Linked DNA regions of Homo sapiens. The protein of the gene in region 2 interacts with the protein of the main gene of each other region in a pairwise test. Each region holds a gene or a part of one and is shown on either strand. Other genes may lie near its edges. The genes, in order: ASB6, L3MBTL3 and TTC19.

Region 1 (3,749 bases), on a different chromosome or scaffold from region 2:
AAGGGAGAGTGGGCTTTCCTCTCCAGCAGCTCAGTGAGAACAAGGATTCGGCTCTCCTCGCTGGCGACATAACTGGGCCTGGGACAGGAGAGAGGCTGAGGGTAGGCACAGCTGTGGGACCGGGTGACCGCGCAGCCTGTGGGTTGGTGGGCTTTAGTCCTGCTATCATCATCAGCAAGCAGGGCCCTGGCTCTGTGGGTCACAGGGGCTTGGGGGAAGCTCTGAAGTAGAGAGAGGGCCACGCTGCATCTCTTAATACGGGAGCAGACTGGGATTTGCGGAGAATGGGCTGGGTCTGTCTGCGCTCTCCTCCCGCGTTGCCCAGAGTCCGGTCGCAGACTTAGGTACAAAGCCTCACACACCTGGGCTGCTGGGACTGAAGGGACCACCAGCCTGGAGGCCAAGAGCCCAAGCCCGACTTTGATGCTTCTTCCTCAGAAAGCCCTTCCATCCTCAAACCCGCAGGACCCCAGCCCCGGCAACACCTGCAGCCAGGACAGCAACACAGCCTCCTCCCTCCCCTCACATTGAGACCTTCAGCTGATATTGATGAAGAAAGCCTACGTTTCCACCAGAGTCCCTGGATGGCGAGACTCATCATTACCACGTGTTGGAAATACCAACTGACAACCCCCTCAACACCTGAGCCGAGCCCCTTCCTTCTGCTCTCCCCTCCCTTCCACCTCGCGTGCCGCCGTACAATTACTTGTCAGTCTCTCCTCTGGAGCACATGCGCCAAGAAGGCGGGGGTTTTGCTGAGCCACTGATGGACCCCAGGTGCCTAGTACCATGGGCAGTGAATGCAGATTCGCTCCCGACCCCTTTCCTGCAGGTCCACGACAGACCAGCTCTTGTCTATAAAAACGCAAACTCTGCTACAAAAGCCCACCTTCACACTGCTCTGGGGTAACATCTGAGGCCTCACGGATTCCACCCTGCTCCTCTGCCACGCCGGGGGGTGGCACAGGACAGGCAGGCGACAGGGTGGGGCTGAGGCGCAGGCCCTGCGACAACCCGCGGGCCTCCGCCCTCGGGCCCTCCCCGCCCTTCGTCTCCGCCATGCAAGGGGCAGGAGTGGGATCCGCGCGGGGCAGCGCGCACTCCGAGCCACGCAACCCCGGCTTCCGCCCGTCCCTTCCTCTGTCAAGGGGGACGCATCCACCCCGCCCGGCTTGTGGTGATAAAGTGGGACGCTGCGGGGTCGGAGCGGCCTCGGCCAGCTCACGGGAGGGGGTGAGTTACCGGTCCAGAGACTCCTGCCGCTCGGGGTCCTGGATCCCCAGGGAGCCCAGAATCGCATCCACCAGCGGCTGGTACTCGAAGATGATCCTCCGGAAGCCGTGCAGGAACGGCATCGCCGCGGGCCCCGCGCAGCAGGGCCGTCGCGCTTTCTGCCGAGGCCGAGATGCCCAGACGCCGACCGGAACGCTCCGGCGGCCGCGGACCCCACCTGCTCCGCCAGTCCAGCCCCTGCGCCCGGCCGGGTCCGCTCCTCAGTCCAAGCCGCGCCCCCGCCGGAAGTGACCCTCGTACTTCCTGCCCGCGCCGACTCAGGGTGGGCCATATGGCGACAGCGCCCCCTGCGGGCTCGGAGGACCTCGGCGCGTCCTGGGGCACGACCGCCAGGCCGACTCGGGCGATGTCCAGTGGGCGGCCCCAGCGGAGTGGGAGAGTGGAGGATCGAGCCAAGCCAGATCCGAGACTCAGGCGGGTCCGCCCCTTCCTGCCAGGGCCCGGCCCGGCTCGGCTTCGCCCTGCGATCCCGCCCGCGACCGCTGGGCGCCGTCCGAGTTCCGCCGGTCGTGCTCTCGGCCCTGCCGCTGCCCCACTGGCCCTGGGCGCCCCTGAGAGCTGTGGTCATCAGACACTGCCCCTTCCGGTTCGGGCTGGCCCTCGCCTTCCCTGAAGAGGGGCTGGGCCACCTCTGTCACCACCCGGCCCGCTGACTGGAATGATGAGGACCAGGGTACTCGCACGTCCCCTCCTCAGTTTCTTATTCTCTGTCCCGGGGAGCACCTGGCCAGGACGGCTGCTAGCCCTCTCCACCTCTGCCTTGATGGACTCAGTGAATCTTGTTTTTTGTTGTTGTTGTTTTTGTTTTTTTGGGGGACGTAGTCTCGCTCTGTTGCCCAGGCTGGAGTGCAATGGCACGATCTCGGCTCACTGCAACCTCCGCCTCCCGGGTTCAAGCGATTCTCCTGCCTCAGCCTCCCGAGTAGCTGGGATTACAGGCGCTGGCCACCACGCCCAGCTTATTCTTGTATTTTTAGTAGAGACAGGGTTTCACCATATTGGCCAGGCTGGTCTCGAACTCCTGACCTCGTGATCCTCCCACCTCGGCCTCCCAAAGTGCTGGGATTACAGGCATGAGCCACGGTGCCCAGCCCGAATCTTGTGTATTTTTTAGAGACAGGGTCTCACTCTGTCTCCCAGGCTGGAGTGTAGTGTAGTGATCATGACTCACTGCAGCTTTGAACCCCTGGGCTCAGGTGATCCTCCCGCCTCAGCCTCCCGAGAAGCTGGGAACACAGGAGTGTGCTACCGCCTGTCTCTGAACTTGGATTTCCTCATCTGTAAAATGGGTAGAATCCCCAGCACTTTGAGAGGCCGAGGCAGGTGGATCACCTGAGGTCAGAAGTTCGAAGCTGCAGACCGGCCTGGCCAATATGATGAAACCCTGTCTCTACTAAAAATACAAAAATTACCCGGGCGTGGTGGCAGGCGCCTGTAATCCCAGCTACTTGGGAGGCTGAGGCAGGAGAATTGCTTGAACCCGGGAGGCGGAGGTTGCAGTGAGTGGAGATCGCACCATCACACTCCAGCCTGGGCAATAAGAACGAAACTCTGTCTCAAAAAGAAAAAAAAAAAGTATAATCACACTCACCTGAGATGCTGGAGCCAGCGCACTGTAATTGTTGGTGGAAGTGGAATTCAGTGGGAAGGAGCCAAAACCCTCTGGTTCAGGAAGAAGGGGCGGAGTGGGCAGCCGGGTTTAAGCCCCTTTAGGGCAACACCAGCTTGGGCTTCCTAGAAGCAGCTCCAGGCCGCAGAGTCCACAGCTGCCAGCACGTTTCTGCCTTGGTTCTCGCTGTAGGAAAGAAATTTCTCCCTGGGTGAAATCGGGAAATTCTGCTCACATGGAAATGGACATTTCCAGCTTGCCTTGGAAAAACCACTTTTCTGGAGTCGAGGCACCTCCCCTTGGGCCATGCATTTGAGCCTCCTCTCCCACCTGGAGTCTGCGTGGGGGGGCCTTGATGCCTTCTTGCTTCTGGGAAGCTGATGATGAAGAGGGGTTTCCCGCCCCAGCAGTCCACATCACAGCGTTGGCCTCCTGGGCCTTGCTCTGCCAAGTTGGGCCCCTCTCCCTGGAACCTGCCAGACAGCGAGAGTTGCCCAGCCCAGGAAAAAAACATTTAAAGGCGCATTTCAAGACAATCCGATGGGTCTTAGAGTAAACATTTTTATATTTATTTATTTATTATTATTATTATTATTATTTTTCAGACGGAGTCTCACTCTGTTGCCTAAGCTGGAGTGCAGTGGCAGGATCTCGGCTCACTGCAACCTCCAACCCCTGGGTTCAAGCCTACCAGGTAGCTGGAATTACAGGCATGCGCTACCACGCCAGGCTAATTTTTGTATTTTTAGTAGAGACGGGGTTTCACCATGTTGGCCAGGCTATTCTCGAACTCCTGACCTCAGGTGATCCACCCGCCTCAGCCTCCCAAAGTACTGGGCTTACAGAC
Region 2 (3,749 bases):
GTTGATTTTTGTTGGTCCATTTTCATTATTCGCAGTAGTTACGCTCCACAAATTACCTTGTGTGGAACCATTGCTCTTAGGGGAAATAGAGGGTTAGCTTCCTGTGAGCCTCTGGTCACATTTTTGTCTACTGATCAGTGTGTAACCTTGTTTTATGTGTGTTTCTGTTTAAAGACACCTCATTTAATGTATATCGTTCATTCATTAAAAATTGAACTCACAAGTAAGAGCACTATCACTCCTGCCTGATGAAGCTTATCTAGCACAAGTATCTTCTCTGTAAGGCAACATCACAACCTTTTGGCACTTAGGGACACTAAACAACACCTCAGCACTATGTCAGGGGCCATTTTAAACAGTAACATCACCCAAGAAAAGCACAAAAATGTAGAATATGTGGCACTAAATGGACCACACAAAAGACACTTATTCCCAGTACGAGAACTGAAACAGGAAGGTAAAGCTCCTTCTTGATTGACTTCAGCTGGGAACATGCATGTTGAGTGACTCAAAAGTGTTGTCAGTCTGTGCATGTCCACGAACACTGCGAGTATTATTTTGGGGTTACAAATAAATTGTAGCAAGTAGATGACTTCACAAACGTGGAATACAGTATGTGAATAATGAAGACTGGCGGTATGTCATTTTTTCCTTCCCATCACCATTTACTAGACTTGGTTAGGTGGAGACAAGATGGATACCTGAAATGATAGAATGTCACCAGGCAAATATTTTGCAAAGGATATCAGGGCAGAAATTTTAAAATGTTGGCAAGAAAATGTTTTTTAAATGATTGCTAGGAAAGGAAGGCTTGGGGTGAGGAGAGCTGCTAGGGAGGAAGTAAAAGGATCAGTGTGAGACTAGAGTTTCTGTTGAGATTGAGGAAGAGGCATCTGGGGGTAACTGGGTTTGCAGACTGGAATAGGAGTATGTGTCCCAGGGTTGGATTTTTAAATTTAATACTAAGAAGCAGAGCAGTTCTTGTTGGGGACTAGATTCATGGGAGTGAGGGCTTGAAGTAGAGAGGAAGGGAGTCAAAATGCCAGGGTATTGGATAAGTCATCCATATGGATGACGAAAGTACTCAGATGGAAAGGAAGAGAATAAGCCAGGGCTAAGTGTTTGGGTGGTTAGCATGGGGGAAGAAGAGGAGGAGAGTTGCTTCAGCCATATGGCTCGAGCCTCGGCAGGGGAGAACTGGCCTAGGATCCATGGTGTGGTGGGAGGCAGCAACCCGTCCTGTGTCTATGGGAGGTAGAGTTGGGAACATGAGCACCCTTGGGGAAAGGCTTGAGAAGGACGAGCTAGGTATGACTGTGGGCAAGGAGGGTGAGGATGTAGGAGATTGTTTCTCAAAGCATAGCTTTCCGGTGAGCCTGAGATAGAGACTATGGGGAGAACAGAGAGAGCTTGGCTCAAGGGAGCAGAAGCTCAGAACGGTGTGCCCACAAGGAACTAGAGGCTGTAAATTACTATAGGGCTGAGCTCTTAGGATCGGCCAGATATAGCTGACTGTGAGAGAGAGGAGAGAAGCAGCCTTCTTTGCATGGGGTGGCTGTAGGGAGTGGGGGTAGCTCCTGCTTTACCTGAGAGATTGTATTTCCCAGGGATTCCAGTCTCAGCTGTATGGAGAGACTCTGTTCTCTCTGGGGGGAGTCAGCTTAGTTGTAAATTTGATGTATGTGGTATATCAATACATTCTAATTGAAAAAATGCTGATACATAAAAGAAAATATGAAAAGTCCATCATTCCCATTTTGCCCCTTCCTTTTCACTACCACTTCCTAGAAGAAATCATTATTAACATTTTGGCAAATATACCTCCGGACTTCTTTTTACTATGTGTTTACATATGTATGCATATGTGTGTATATTAATGTATGTATATAAATGCATATACTTATGTATATACACATAATACACATATGTATACATAATCATATACCCATAAATACATGTGGACCCCCACATGTCTAATTTTCTCATAAACTTAACTCATTCTGTGTTATGTGTTCTACCACTTGAATTTTAACTATATGTTTTAGAGAACTTTCCATGACAGTAACTGTACAGCTACCTCACTATTTGAGGATTAATTGCCCTGGCTCTGCACTCTGGTCTAAGTTCATCATTCAGGGTTCTGCAGGACAGACACTCCTGGAGCGGGTAGAGGTCTGGCGTGATACGTGTTTCTACTTGAACACATCTTCTTGTGTTAGTGGGAAGAAGTCTCAGGGGCTGAACCCTCTCTCTAAGAATCCAGGGCAGGGTATGATCCAACTCAGGTCTCGTAAGCCTATATGACCTTCTAAATCAGAATGTCTCTAAGTGGGGCCCTGTAGGCATATGTATGGCATGTGTTATACAGAGTACATTCTTACTAGCATTCTTAGGAGCCTGTCTCATCCAAGTAATAAACTAGGAGAGACGCTTTTCTTTCTTTCTTCCAACCCAGCTTTGGTGGAGAAAAAAAGCTTGACTTCTGTGCATATGCACCAGCTGTGGTCTGCAGCCTTCAGTGCAGGGCAGACTGTCCACTCTGGGGCCATGCTAGAGCTGAGTGTGCTGTGCTGGTGTGCCTTCCAGCTTACCCTGGGGACACATCTTGGTACAACATAGGGAGTGGAGAAAGGACCTGCAATTGTGGGATATTATGCTTTGCCCCCTATCCGTGTGGTTGTAATGTAACTGAGAATGTTGCCAGAATGCCACAGCTCAGCTCTTCCCACTTTAATAGCTTTTGTCTTTAGATTCTGGTTATTTGTTTAGTTGTTTTATTACTGTTAATGTGGGTGGTTTGATTAACATTAAGACTATATCATGCCTGGTGTCCATGTTTATTTTTGTGTATATATATATATATATGAATATTCTGAGTTAAAAAAAATAATTCAACCTATTTTACCTGTTTCAGGTTTGTGGATACCGGATAAAGCTTCACTTTGATGGGTATTCTGATTGCTATGACTTCTGGGTGAATGCAGACGCTCTGGATATCCACCCAGTTGGGTGGTGTGAGAAAACCGGCCACAAACTCCATCCTCCAAAAGGTTTTGTCACTTTTTGTTTGATATTTTAAATTCAGTAAAAACTCATTTTCTTACATGCTACATTAGAATTGTTAAGAATTCAGACTTTATGAAAATTCAGATAGGCACAAATTTAACCTTATTGTTTATGATGAAACCATGTTTATTAAAGTTAAAGAAATAAAAGCAGAATCCAGCCTAGGAAAATAAAGTATGTTCATATGCTTATTTTCATGTAAAATAACATTTGCATGATACTCAACTTTGACTACAAATAATGTTTACCTGCAAATTTCTATTATTAAATACATACATCTTTGAAAAAACTGATTTGAAAAATTAGTTTAAATTAGTTTATATAACTAAGTTTAGTGTTAACTGGTTTAAACTAATTTTTCAAATCAGTTTTTCATTATATAGAAAATCCTGAGAAATTATGCTTGACCGTATAGATCTTAATATTTAGGAGATTGGCAAGAAGACTGTAACACTAAAAATTGGCTTAGGTGGGGGGTTGAACTCATAGCAATTACTTTTCTTATATTTGAGTACTTTATATTATAGTCCCCCAGTGATTTTCCTATTTCATGTTTATATCAAAGTTCAAGAATAACAGATATCGTCTTTTTCACTGTCTGCCTAAAGTATTCCCTAATTTTTTTTTGAGACGGAGTCTTGCTGTGTCGCCCAGGTTGCAGTGCAGTGGTGTGATATTGGCTC
Region 3 (3,749 bases), on a different chromosome or scaffold from region 2:
TCTGCTAATTCCTTTTCTCTTTCAATTTTTTCCTCTAGAGTTGAAATGCAGAATTCATAGCCAGCAACAGCAAATTCCTGTCTGTAAAGCAAAATCAATAATCAGCCATTTACCTTTTCTTCTTTTTTTTTTCTTCCTTCTGTTGAGATGGAGTTTCGCTCTTGTTGCCCAGGCTGGAGTGCAATGGCGTGACCTCGGCTCAGAGCAACCTCCACCTCCGGGGTTCAAGCGATTCTCCTGCCTTAGCCTCTCGAATAGCTGGGATTACAGGTGCCCGCCACTATGCCCAGCTAATTTTTGTATTTTTGGTAAAGACAGAGTTTCACCATGTTGGCCAGGCTGGTCTGGAACTCCTGACCTTAAGTGATCCACCCACCTCGGCCTCCCAAAGTGGTGGGATTACAGGCGTGAGCCACTGCGCCCGGCCCATTTACCTTTTCACAAATTCTTTTTATCTTCATTTTTCCAGCTCAGTTTAAACATTATCAGTAAAGGAAGTGTAAAATGGGAAGAGGGAACTTTGCTTAAAGTCTAAGTAGTGTCAAATCTGCCATTTCTCAAAGCAGTTTTTTTAAGTCATCCATTTAATATAACTTAGGACACAAAAAGCTAGGAATGCTGCCCTAATTTTAATAACTGACATAGCCAGCAGTATTCATCATCTCCCACTAACAGATGGCCTCCAGTGAATCAACTTCTCCATGTGTGAAAGCCTTACCCCTGTTCAAAGTAATACTACCCTAAACAGTTCAGGCCGCCCTACAGTGAGGATTCCAACTGTTGACCTCATACAGCTTCTGAGGAGCTTTAGTCATTTTATATTTCTTTCAAGCTATAAGTCTCTGATAAAAGTTTCTTTTGCAGAAATGGGACTCCTAGCTATGGCAATAGAAGTCATTTAACCCAACTCTGTAGCCCTGGACCCTCAATCAACTGGAGAGGGTTGAGTCAACCCAAGCAGGCCGACTGACTGCTGCTTTTTACAGAGATGCAGAGGAAATGTGACAGAAATCCCTTCTCCATTTAGGAGCTCAGCTTTGGTTCTTTTCTTCAGTTTTGGCTCTAGTTTCTTACAGAAGTGGCACTAAAAAGCTCACCTGTTCTCTAGTGCTTTGCCAGGGGAGAACTTATGACCCTACTGTTCTGCTCTGTTCTCAGAAGAACAGAAGCATCCCCTTCCTTCCCTACGCTCAAAACTTGGCAAGAGGGCCCTCTCTAGCCATAACACAGGGCAAGTGGACACTGCCCAGAAGACGCTCCCAGTCGGAGCAAGAGGTCTACAAACAATTCCCCTCATAACCTATATCAGCCTTTCGAAGCCTCAGATCTGGCCATGTCTTTTCTAGTCTCATGCTTCTCTTAATAAAACAAAATGAAAAGTACAGAGTACCATGTAACTCAGAGGCTAATTGTTACTAGCTTTCACCTCTAGAAGACTATGAATTTGTCTTACTCAACAATGTTTATTAGGCTCTGGGCTTCTTCTTACCCTAGGGATTCATACCCAATCAAGAACTAGGCATGTTTGTTACAACTCCAAGAAAGATTGACCAAGCTGCAGTGTTCCCTGGCATGGGCCAAGCTCAAAGCTCCTCAAAAGACTTGAAGTCAAAGGCTCCAGGAAGCTCTAGCCTATCTAGTGTCCAATCAAAATGCAAGGAGACTATGCAGGTCCTGATGAGAACAAAGGAGCTGGTGAGTAGGACAGTAGGGAACAGTGCCAGGGCCTGGCCTCAGTGAGCACCCTTTCTACAGCATCAGGCTCCATGTCACTCCAAACCTCTCGCACCAACTTCTGCACCACTAAAACCTGAAGGGAAGCTAGTCTTAGGTCTCTCCCTAAATTCATCCCAAATACAACTCTCTAGAGGAGTTCTCTGCTTACAACCTAGATGCTTCATCTTTGAACTCTATTTATACCAGCAAAATGGCTTCTTCAGAGTATTAATATATTATCCCCAGCAGCTTTCACACTGCTCTTTCCTCTTCTAGGAAAAGTTAAACTAAAGTTCTAACTCTAACTTCCCTTCCCACTTCAAGCAGCAACAGAAAACTTAGTTAGTTTTGTCACAGGGCAGCCAGAGATGTTGTGTGCCCCACTAGGCAGGCTGATGGAAACAGTAGGGGCAAACTGGAAAAAGACTGACAATTTCAAAGATGAGGGATGGAACACTTTGAGTGTGACACCCAATTTCTGGGAGACCCAGATGACCAGTAGACAATGAATATTATGTAACATCCCAGAGTCAAAGTTTCCTGCCCACAGTCCTACTCCCTGGCTGCTGTACTTACCTGTTCTGCGCAGCATAGATACTGGCCAGCTTTAGGGAAATTTCAATTATTGCATTGTCCTCCTGTGAGAGAAAGAGAATGAAGGGAACTCATAACAAGTAAATTTTTTCATGGCATATTTCAGATCAACTTCCAGACTGACGGTGGCCTCAAAGCCACAGTCTTTATTCTTTTAGAGTGATGAGCCAACTGTGAATTCCTTGGCAAGCATGCTGTTGCATTTAGTGAAAGAATGGCAATTTGTATAGAGATCTCAGAAGGGAAACTCCACCTTTCCTGACCAAAGCATGTGGTGGGGCTAGGAGGAGTTTTCAGGAGACAAGACTGTTTTGAAAACTGCTTCAGTGAGGGGCCAATACTAGGCAATGTCCTTACCTGCTTCATGCCCCCTCCAAGGAGGTAACTCATTGTTGCTTTAAAAAGTTGTTCAGCCTAAAAGCATAAGGAAAAGATTTTTCTTTTAATTGGGCCCCATTTTATATATATATATATGACCCTGGATTCTAAGTGCCAGTCTGATGCAACATTCCTTGTAAAACCCATATACCCACACACACGCACACTCACACACAGAAAAGTACCCTTTTGAAGCGAAAACAGATCAAAATATCAGGACCCTCAACATCCTCTGTGTACCTTAAACTACTCTCTGATGAGTAGAAAACAACCTCAGAGATTAAGTTCTTATCCAAACCCACTGTGGCAGAGACTACAAACTGTCTCCTAATAGTCATTCTCTTCTCCATCTTTTTGATTACAGAGTCCCCTCGATTTAGCCTGGGAAATATGGTGAAATCCCGTCTCTACAATAAATAAATAAATAAATAAATAAATAAATAAGAAAATTAGCCAAGTGTTGTGGCACACGCCTGGAATCCCAGCTACTCAGGAGGCTGAGGTGAGAGGATCAACTGAGCCTGGCAGGTCGAGGTTGCAGTCAGCCATGATTAAGCCACCGCACTCCAACCTGGGCAACAGAGCAAGACCTTATCTTAAAAAAAAAATTCAGTCAATTTTAGCAGATTGGACACCCTTAAGTTAGATATGGTCATATGATAAAATTTAGGCCAAGGGATGCAGGCAGAAAGAACGTGAACTTCTAATCATGTTTTATAAGGAAGCTGCTCACAGTCCATCTTCTCCCCCTTCCTGCAGACTGGAGGTGAGTCAGCTCACCTAGGCAGAGGAGGGCTTATCTTAGAAGAAACCTGGACTTCTGGATCAGAGAGCAAAGGTGCCTATGTCTGTCTGCCTTCAGTCTTTAGCCTATCTCTGGACTAACACAATAAAGAGAAATACACTTTTATCTTGTTTGAGTCACTATATTCTAGGGTCTCTTTGTTATAGCAGCTTAGCCTGTACTCTTACTATTACAGTTCCCTTGAAGCTACTCCTTCATAAATTCAAGATATTACAAAGCAATTTACTTACATTTTCAAGCTGACCCCGTATAAATG

Evidence for each region.
Region 1: the proteins of L3MBTL3 (region 2) and ASB6 interact in binary tests that used the Homo sapiens proteins (3 or more experiments, as listed by UniProt).
Region 3: the proteins of L3MBTL3 (region 2) and TTC19 interact in binary tests that used the Homo sapiens proteins (3 or more experiments, as listed by UniProt).

The regions. Positions count from the first base shown.
Region 1 is NC_000009.12:129,640,645-129,644,393, forward strand, and holds the start of ASB6 (ankyrin repeat and SOCS box protein 6), read right to left. Parts: upstream 1,508-3,749; 5' UTR 1,356-1,507; coding exon 1,243-1,355; intron 79-1,242; coding exon 1-78. UniProt on the Homo sapiens protein: Probable substrate-recognition component of a SCF-like ECS (Elongin-Cullin-SOCS-box protein) E3 ubiquitin-protein ligase complex which mediates the ubiquitination and subsequent proteasomal degradation of target proteins.
Region 2 is NC_000006.12:130,063,439-130,067,187, forward strand, and holds part of L3MBTL3 (lethal(3)malignant brain tumor-like protein 3), read left to right. Parts: intron 1-2,914; coding exon 2,915-3,050; intron 3,051-3,749. UniProt on the Homo sapiens protein: Is a negative regulator of Notch target genes expression, required for RBPJ-mediated transcriptional repression. It recruits KDM1A to Notch-responsive elements and promotes KDM1A-mediated H3K4me demethylation.
Region 3 is NC_000017.11:16,002,806-16,006,554, reverse strand, and holds part of TTC19 (tetratricopeptide repeat protein 19, mitochondrial isoform 1 precursor), read right to left. Parts: coding exon 3,724-3,749; intron 2,725-3,723; coding exon 2,668-2,724; intron 2,355-2,667; coding exon 2,293-2,354; intron 82-2,292; coding exon 1-81. UniProt on the Homo sapiens protein: Required for the preservation of the structural and functional integrity of mitochondrial respiratory complex III by allowing the physiological turnover of the Rieske protein UQCRFS1.